3 separate regions of the Homo sapiens genome follow, and all the other regions are reported to be linked to region 3. Evidence: microRNA targets listed by miRTarBase, many of them from high-throughput screens and not tested one by one. Region 3 holds a microRNA gene; each other region holds the end of a gene's coding sequence.

Evidence for each region. The annotated mature microRNA hsa-miR-512-3p reads AAGUGCUGUCAUAGCUGAGGUC and lies in region 3 at 1,319-1,340, shown strand. An mRNA with a match to its seed (bases 2 to 7 or 8) in the 3' UTR can be bound and repressed. Matches are read on the target gene's strand: a 7mer-m8 pairs with bases 2 to 8, a 7mer-A1 pairs with bases 2 to 7 and ends in A, and an 8mer does both.
Region 1: miRTarBase lists WWC1 as a target of hsa-miR-512-3p. Seed matches in the 3' UTR shown: 7mer-m8 at 1,866-1,872.
Region 2: the mRNA of CEP72 is a reported target of hsa-miR-512-3p. The part of its 3' UTR that is shown has no 7-base or 8-base seed match.

What each region holds. Positions count from the first base shown.
Region 1 is chr5:168,468,719-168,471,841 of GRCh38, forward strand. It overlaps WWC1 (WW and C2 domain containing 1), which reads left to right. Exons shown (of 23, transcript NM_015238.3): 23 at 233-3,123. The coding sequence ends at 299. Among named protein-coding and RNA genes, the nearest start is that of RARS1, 16 kb to the right of the region's middle.
Region 2 is chr5:652,792-655,914 of GRCh38, reverse strand. It overlaps CEP72 (centrosomal protein 72), which reads right to left. Exons shown (of 12, transcript NM_018140.4): 12 at 2,362-2,927. The coding sequence ends at 2,762. Among named protein-coding and RNA genes, the nearest start is that of TPPP, 39 kb to the left of the region's middle.
Region 3 is chr19:53,665,411-53,668,533 of GRCh38, forward strand. It overlaps MIR512-1 (microRNA 512-1), which reads left to right and starts at 1,269; the gene lies at 1,269-1,352. The region is part of intron 2 of LOC107985342 (a long non-coding RNA gene); the gene reads left to right. RefSeq lists enhancers at 1-192, 193-1,080, 1,081-1,969, 2,858-3,123.

The sequences.
Region 1 (3,123 bases), not on the chromosome of region 3:
GGTGATTTCTCCCCTTCCCCCTGGAACATTTGGCAATGAGCTTACGTTTTGGGTTGTCATAACTGGAGGTCAAGGATACAGCCAGCATCTAGAGGGTAAGAGGCCAAGGACGTTGCTAAACATTCTGCAGCGAATGTATAGGACAGCTCCCACGACAAAGAATTATCCTGCCCAGAATCTCTGTAGAGCGAGGTTGAAAACCCCTGCTCTAAAGGGATGGCCTCTCTTATAGGGAGAAGATGGCATTTTTCACCCGGCCTCGGATGAATATCCCAGCTCTCTCTGCAGATGACGTCTAATCGCCAGAAAAGTATTTCCTTTGTTCCACTGACCAGGCTGTGAACATTGACTGTGGCTAAAGTTATTTATGTGGTGTTATATGAAGGTACTGAGTCACAAGTCCTCTAGTGCTCTTGTTGGTTTGAAGATGAACCGACTTTTTAGTTTGGGTCCTACTGTTGTTATTAAAAACAGAACAAAAACAAAACACACACACACACAAAAACAGAAACAAAAAAAACCAGCATTAAAATAATAAGATTGTATAGTTTGTATATTTAGGAGTGTATTTTTGGGAAAGAAAATTTAAATGAACTAAAGCAGTATTGAGTTGCTGCTCTTCTTAAAATCGTTTAGATTTTTTTTGGTTTGTACAGCTCCACCTTTTAGAGGTCTTACTGCAATAAGAAGTAATGCCTGGGGGACGGTAATCCTAATAGGACGTCCCGCACTTGTCACAGTACAGCTAATTTTTCCTAGTTAACATATTTTGTACAATATTAAAAAAATGCACAGAAACCATTGGGGGGGATTCAGAGGTGCATCCACGGATCTTCTTGAGCTGTGACGTGTTTTTATGTGGCTGCCCAACGTGGAGCGGGCAGTGTGATAGGCTGGGTGGGCTAAGCAGCCTAGTCTATGTGGGTGACAGGCCACGCTGGTCTCAGATGCCCAGTGAAGCCACTAACATGAGTGAGGGGAGGGCTGTGGGGAACTCCATTCAGTTTTATCTCCATCAATAAAGTGGCCTTTCAAAAAGAATCTTCCTCTTGCTCTCTTTTTCTTTCCTACCCCTCACTTCATCTGTTTCCCTGATTTTTGACTCTCCCCTTTCCAGTCATTTCTTTCCCACCCATCCGCAGTCCTGGAAACATTTATTTTTTCTTTTGCCCACTGTTTTCATTTGCTCATTAAATTAAAATGACTGCTCGGCTCATTGGGAATCCACATCCCCAAGTTAGACTGGGGATATGCTCTCTGTACTGTCTCCTTCTATGGAATTCCACCCCACCCAGAGAGAGATGACTTCACAGTTTGTTCATATGAGCATCATCCCATGTCGTCCCCAACCCAGGGGCTGGTAGGTGCTACAGCTTGTGCTTCATGCTGCTCCTGTGGCCCCTATTCCTACCCAGCTCAGAGCTTTGCAGGGTCTACTGCAGACAATCAGAAGTCAGTTTCTAACAAATAGCAACAGCCACAAATCTCTTCCTCCTTCCTCTCTGACATTACCCTGTGCAACTTTTCTCAAAGTCTGTTGCACCACTCAGCAAAGCAAGTTGCACCAGCTATATCAGAATCACCTGGGGCAGCCTATTAAAAATGCAGACTGTTGAGACCATCCTGGCTAACACGGTGAAACCCTGTCTCTACTAAAAATACAAAAAATTAGCCGGCCGTGGTGGCGGGCAGCTACTCGGGAGGCTGAGGCAGGAGAATGACCTGAACCTGGGAGGCAGAGCTTGCAGTGAGCTGAGATTGTGCCACTGCACTCCAGCCTGGGTGACAGAGCAAGACTCCGTCTCAAAAAAAAAAAAAAAAGAAAAATGCAGACTGGCTGGCGCGGTGGCTCATGCTTGTAATCCCAGCACTTTGGGAGGCTGAGGCGGGCAGATCAACTGAGATCGGGGGTTCGAGACCAGCCTGATCAACATGGAGAAACCTGGTCTCTACTAAAAATACATAATTAGCTGGGCGTAGTGGCGCATACCTGTAATCCCAGCTACTTGGGTGGCCAAGGCTTGAACCCAGGAGGCGGAGGTTGCGGTGAGCCGAGATGGCGCCATTGACTCCAGCCTGGGCAACAAGAGCGTAACTCCATCTCAAAAAAATAATAATAATAAAAATAAAATGCAGACTGTCAGGTCCTCTCTAGACCCACTGAACTATCCCGCCCACCCTGGGACGGTCCCCAGTGCCAGTGTTTTACCCATGTTCCCTCTGTAAGTCTTATGCACACCGCAATTTGAGAGCCCCACTGGTATAAAGTGAGTGAAACCCAGGCAGAGACAGGCAAAATGGTGAGGCCCGCATCCTATTGGTGAGTCACACAGGGAACGCTGAAATTCATGGCCTTCTCCAGGCTACTGGGAACCCATGGGCGGTGATGGAGGGAGTGGTGCCACCTTCACTTGCTGCTGAGGCTCTTCCCCCTCTCCCCAGCATACTCCTTACCTGGCTGTCTCTCCTCATGTATAAGGAACCTATAGTGGTGTAGAATCTACTCTTCTTCCCCCTGTGGCTTCCAGGCCCCCCTGTATAGCTGCTATCCAGCCCGATTTCTCACCACTGGCCCAGGGCTTCCTCCTGCCCCGTGGCTTCACGTCTCTGAACACATCAATCTCTGATGTTCTCTCTCCTTCCATTGAATTCCACCAGACACATTCAGGGTTTACTTCGTAATGTCTTCATATGAGTATCAATCAACACCTTCCCCAACTCAATTGTACTAGGTTGTAGAGCACAAGGATGGTCTCGTGCTGCTCTGTGGCACCTGTGCCTACACTCCTCTGAGCTTTGAGGAGGCTGCTCTCTTTGCTGACCCCATGATCTTTTCTGCCCTTCTGTTAAGGGCATTGGCCACAGCAACGGGGCAAATGCCCCAAGCTGGCTGTAAGTGACCCATCCCTTTGGCTCCCATGATTAGACCAAGGAGAGGCATGGGGTCCAGCTGAGCCATTCAGAACCATTCCTTAGCATTTTCCACTCAAAGGTTAGAGATGAGATTTTCTCTTCCCAAGGCTACCTCTGGCCATGGTTCCAGCTTCATGGGGGCAATGGGATTAGGAAAATGAGGTCAACCTGCAAAGGAAAGCAGATGCAAGAGATGGAGACAGAATGGGG
Region 2 (3,123 bases), not on the chromosome of region 3:
AAGTTTAAAATTTCTCTTAAAAGACACCATTGAAGTAAAAAGACAAGAAAAGCTATTTGCAAATGTAATTCACAAAGCACTACTACCCAGAATCATAAATAACACCTGCAAATAAATGAGACAGACCATCCAATAGAAAAGTAGGGAAAATACTTGAATAGGTACTTTACAAACAGGAAATCCCAATGAGCCGCAGACACATGAGAAGGTGCTGAACAAGGAGAAGCCAATGAAACCAGAAAGAGGTCTACCCCACACGTTCCACCACCCCGCGCCCTCCGCCACCCCGCGCCCTCCACCACCCCACTCCCTCCACTACCCCACACCCACCGGAGTGAAGGTGCTAACACTTCAGGCAATGGGTGCTGAAAACATGGACCGGCAGACGTGGTCATACACAACTAGCAGTCGGGCCTGCGGGTACCACCACTTTGGAACAGTTGGGAATTTCTAGTAAACCTGTTAAAAACATGGTTAAGCAGTTAATGGAAACGTGAACATAATGGGATATAAAACTAATGAAAAAAATCAAATGGAGTTTTTTTGTTTTTTTTTTGAGACGGAGTCTTGCTCTGTCGTCTAGGCTGGAGTGCAGTGCTGCAATCTTGGCTCACTGCAACCTCCGCCTCCCAGGTTCAAACGATTCTCCTGCCTCAGCCCCCCAAGAAGCTGGGACTACAGGTGCCCACCACCATGCCCAGCTAATTTTCATTTTTAGCAGAGATGGAGTTTCGCCATGTTGGCCAGGCTGGTCTCAAACTCCTGGCCTCAAGTGATCCTCCTGCCTCAGCCTCCCAAAGTGCTGGGATTACGGTGTGAGCCACCCCGCCTAGCCTCAAATGGAATTTTAGAACAAAAATATACCTAATTTCTGATATAAAAAATTCACTATACAAGCTTAACATCAAATTAGGCAAGTGGAAGAAAAGATTAGTAAGCCTCGCAACAGGACAATAAAACCACCTAAAGGAAAGGATGAGAGAACAAGGATGAAAAAGCATCACGTTTAGTGACCTGAGAGACAGTATCACAGTCTAACAGAAAGCTAACTAGAGTCCCAGATGGGGACAGGGAGGAAGAAGTGAGAGACGGGGTCAGACAAGAAATATGAGTAGTGGCTGCAACTTTGCCAAATCTGGTGAAAAATATGAACTCACAGGTCCAAGAAGCTCAATGAAACCCAAACGAGGTAAGCATCTATAAGCTTAAAGTGGATTAATATTAACATCTTCTAATACTCTTACATACATAAATTACGTGATGACAAATTAACCCCATCCCAACCCTACAGAAAATAAATTTGGTATGACACATTTTCCTGTTAGGACCACAACTGGACAGAGAGGTGACACAAGAGGGCAGCCTGAAGCCTAGCAAGTCCTCTTCGGGGAAGAGACAGCAGAGTCCCACCTCTGATTTCCCCAGGGATACAATCCACACGCACACACACACACACACAGAAGCACACACACACACAGCTAGCAGACACACACAGCTAGCACACAAGCACACACATAGCAAGTGCACATACACAACGCGTGCACACACAGCACACACACAGGGTGCGTGCGCGCACACACAGCGCACACACAAGCGTACACACAGCTAGCACACAGCAACTGCACACACACACAGCAAGCGCACAAGCACACACACACAGCAAGCATGCACACACAGCTAGCACACACACAGCAAGCGCACACACAGCTAGCATGCACACACAGCTAGTACACAGAGCAAGTGCACGCGCACAGAGCACACACAGCAAGCGCACACAGCTAGCACACACAGCACACACACACAGCTAGCACACACACAGCTAGCACACACACACTAGGCGCACACACAGCACACACACACAGCTAGCACACACACACAGCAAGCGCACACTAGCGCACACACAGCACACACACACAGCAAGGGCACACACACACACAGCAAGGGCACACACACACACAGAGCTAGCACAGAGCATTTTCTTCTTAGGCCTGCTCATTCTTCCCAAATCAGTTGAACGTCATTTAAAAAATGACCTTGTCTTACCAATCACAGCAAGTATGACATAAGATATGAAGTTTCCAAACTAAAAATCTAGTTTTGTGTCCTATTATGACATAATTTTCAGAACTACACTGCAAACAAGAGAGCGAGCCAGGGCTTGGGTAGATGTTTCCGCTGTGATATGTTAATATCATAAGACAATATTTTTAAGGTTTTTTCCCCCACATCTATAAGTGTCACTTGTGTTAAGTCTTTGAACTTAATTATTCCCACTCACCTATCATGGTGCACAGCTTGTTCTATAAAAAACTCAATGACAAACTCAGTTATAATTTGTATACAGCCACTGAAAAAGTTAACTTTTCAGAACAATGTATTTGTTTATTAAATAAAGATTGCTTGTTACACAGAAAATTATTTTCTTTAATTATCATACATAGCTCTCTTTCACATCAGGCAGTAGAACACTGCATTTACTTCATCTCAGGATACTGGATACAAGATTAATAGTCAGTTTGTCTCAAAATATGTCAATGTGTTCTGTCTGAAAACATGCAGAGGGCTTGGAGTAATCATATCATTTTACGAGGTGCTTTAGAAAACCAAGCTACAGGTCCTGAATACATTCCAAAAATCCTAAATAATTACCAACAGAAGAGAGAACTCTTGCCAGCCAGTACACTCAATAAAGAAGTACAAAGGTGCAGACAATGTAACTTTACCAGGAAGCTTAAGGGGTGGCCCAGCTTCTCGGCAGGAGTCAGCAGGCCTGGCAGCCTCCATGGCTGGCGCTGCTGTGTGGAAACAGGGCCATGGTCTTCTTGAGCTCCTGGTAGCTCCAGTGCATCTGCTCCACCTCGGCTCTGTGCTGCGCCCGCACCTGGCTCAGCTCCTGCAGCAGGTGTTCATTGGTGCTGACCAGGGAGCTGCAGAACAACAGGGAAGCGGCTGCTTGGCACTTCCGTCCTCTCCAGCGGTGTGGCCCTCACCTGCTGGGCCTGCCCACCTCCCTGCATGGGCACGAAGGTGCCCTGGCCCTGCACACAGACCTATCTCTGTGGCCCCATCACCTTCTGTGTCCCACTGGCTACCGCCCACCTGCCTCCTCCTTCCCAACCACTG
Region 3 (3,123 bases):
CCAAAGTGCTGGGTTTACAGGTGTGAGCCACCATTCCTGGACCGCATTATTGATTTTTTAAAATTTTTGGATTTTGTTCAATTAGTGATTGAGTCTCACTGTGTTGCCCAGATGGGCTTGTCTCCCAGGCTGGAGTGCAGTGGTGAGATCGTGACTCACAGTAGCCTCAACCTCCCTCACCCCAGCGTCCCGTGTAGTTGGGATGGCAGGCATACAGGACCATGCTTAGCTAATTTTTTTTTTTTTTTGTAGGGTTGGGGTCTCCCACCATTGTCTAGGCTGGTCATCAACACCTGGGCACAAACATCCTCTCACCCCGGCCTCTGAGCCACTGCACCCAGTAGGTTTTAGGTTCATTTTATTTTTTATTTAGGTGTCCACAAAGGCAGCTTTTTCCTTTTCTTTATTTTTTAAAGAGACAGGGTCTCACTCTGTTGCCCAGGGTGGAGTGCAGTGGCCAGATCTTGGCTCTCTGCAACCTCTGCCTTCCAGACTCAAGTGATCCACCTTCGTCTCCAGAGTAGCTGGGACTATAGGTGTGCACAAACACACCCAGCTGAGTTTTAAATCTTTTGTAGAGAAGGGGGCCTCAGTATGTTTCCCAGGCTGGTTTTGAAGTCCTGTGCTCAAGCAATCCTTCTGCCTTGGCTTCCCAAACTGCTAGGATTACAGGTGAGCCACCACACCGGGCCTGTCCACGTAATTTAAAAGGTGCTGGACGTGTGCGGTGGCTCACGTCTGTAATCCCAGCACTTTGGGAGGCTGAGGTGGGCGGATCACGAGGTCAGGAGTTCGAGACCAGCCTGGCCAATATGGTGAAACCCTGTCTCTACTAAAAATACAAAAATTAGCCAGGTGTGGTGGCAGGCGCCTGTAATCCCAGCTTCTCAGGAGGCTGAGGCAGGAGAATTGCTTGAACCCAGGAGGCGGAGGCTGCAGTGAGCTGATGATCGCTCCATGGCACTCCAGCCTGGGCAACAGAGCAAGACTAAGAAAAAAAAAGAAAGAAAAAGAAAAAGAAAACAAAGTAATGTAAAAGGTGTTATTCAGGCTGGGGACCCCCAAAGTGCTGGGATTACAGGCATGAGCCCCAGGGCAGGCCTAGGATTTGCATTACAAGGCTCTGCATTGTTCCTGAGAACTGGAGAGAGTGCTCAATCTACCTTTCGCTATTGAGCAACATTCAGAAGTCAGTTTTAAATCTCTTATCTTCTGCATAGAGGATGTGCCTGCAGTTTCCAGGTACTGGACAATACAGGGAGGGTACTTCTCAGTCTGTGGCACTCAGCCTTGAGGGCACTTTCTGGTGCCAGAATGAAAGTGCTGTCATAGCTGAGGTCCAATGACTGAGGCGAGCACCGAAGAAACACCATGGGGGGGAGGGGGGGCGGGGGGCTCCAGGAGCCACTGCAGGTAAAAGCTAAACCGTGGTGCTTGTTCTGCGCCATAAACTGGACTTCAGCCCAGCTTTAAGGAAATGACCACGGTCTCTGGGTTGTGAGGCTGGGTTCCGTAGCAGCTATAATGCTTGGATTCAGGGATAGCCTGGGTCACACCATTGCCAGAGAAGAGGCAACCAATCCAGACCCCAAAAGCGGGTTCTTGGATCTCTTGCTGGAAAGAATTTCGAGGCAAGTCACAACACAGCGAAAGAAGCAAGCTGAGGCCTGGGCTCAATCCTCCTGCTTCGTCCTCCCAAAGTGCTGGGATTACACGCATGATCCCCTGTGCCCTGCCAATATTTGGTAATTATAACTGGTGGTCAGCTTACAATGTGGCTATTTCCAGACCATAAGTACCAACTCTATAGGTGCCTTGTGAGTGAGTGCCTTGCTACTTCAAGCAGTTACTTTCGTGTGTTATTAAACCAGAGGCCTGCTAAGCCTCTGTGCCTAGTAAAGATTACAATTTGGAATGTCAGCCCCCAGCTGTCCTGTGTGATTGGCAGGTTAGGTCCTTGTTGAACCAGAAGCAACTGGCCAGTCGTACAGATGCAACTTTCGGACCAGTAGAAAATTTCTATGTCAACCTGGAGACATAGGGATTGTACCTTTCTGATACCCTATTAGTAAATAAATAGTATTTATTTATAAATTATGTATAATAGTATTTATCTGAATATATCCCAAGCAGCCCAAGTGTGTTCCAGACATAACATTTTTATTTACATTTAAATATCACTAAGATTAGAGATACACATCTAACTCAGGTTTTCAACTAGTCTTACCATTGAAAGAACTATTGTGGCAGGACGCAGTGGCGCACGCCTATTATCCTAGCACTTTGGGAGGCCGAGGAGGGCGGATCACAAGGCCAGGAGTTCGAGACCAGCCTGGCCAGCATGGTGAAACCCCATCTCTACTAAAAATACAAAAAAATTAGCTGGGCATGATGGCACAGGCTTGCAGTCCCAGCTACTCGGTAGGCTGAGGCAGGAGAACTGCTTGAACCCGGCAGACGGAGGTTGCAGTGAGCCGAGATCGCGCCACCGAACTCCAGTCTGGGCAACAGAGCAAGACGCTTGTCTTAAAAAAGAGAGAGAAAGAACTACTTGTTCTCTGTAAGCCATGCTGGTTTAGCCAAAATGCTGCAGTTGTGTATGGCCAGGGACGTTGAGGCTGCAGTGAGCCGACGGCTGTGTTGCCGCTCTGCAGTCTGGGGGACAGAGCAAGAACCTGTCTCAAAAAAACAAGAAGTTAGTGAGACAGACATGCCGTTCTGTTACTTTTCCCCTTGCTGGTTCAAAGCTAGGTAGTTGCCAATTAAATGTAATCTTGTAGAGCAAAAATGTTTTTCATTTTTTGAGACAGGATCTCACTCTATTGCCCAGCCTGGAGTGCAGTTGTGGGAACTCACAGCAACCTCCACCTCCTGGGTTTAGGCAGTTCTTCTGCATCAGTCTCCCGAGTAGCTGAGACTACACCGGTGCCCAGAGGGCAGTGGCCAGATCTTGGCTCTCTGCAACCTCTGCCTTCCAGATTCAAGTGAGCCACCTCCGCCTCCTGAGTAGCTGGGACTATAAGTACGTACCACCATACCCAGTTAATTTTTGCATTTTTTGTAGATAAGGGGGCTAAGTATGTTTCCCAGGCTGGTTTCGAAGTCCTGTGCTCAAGCAATCCT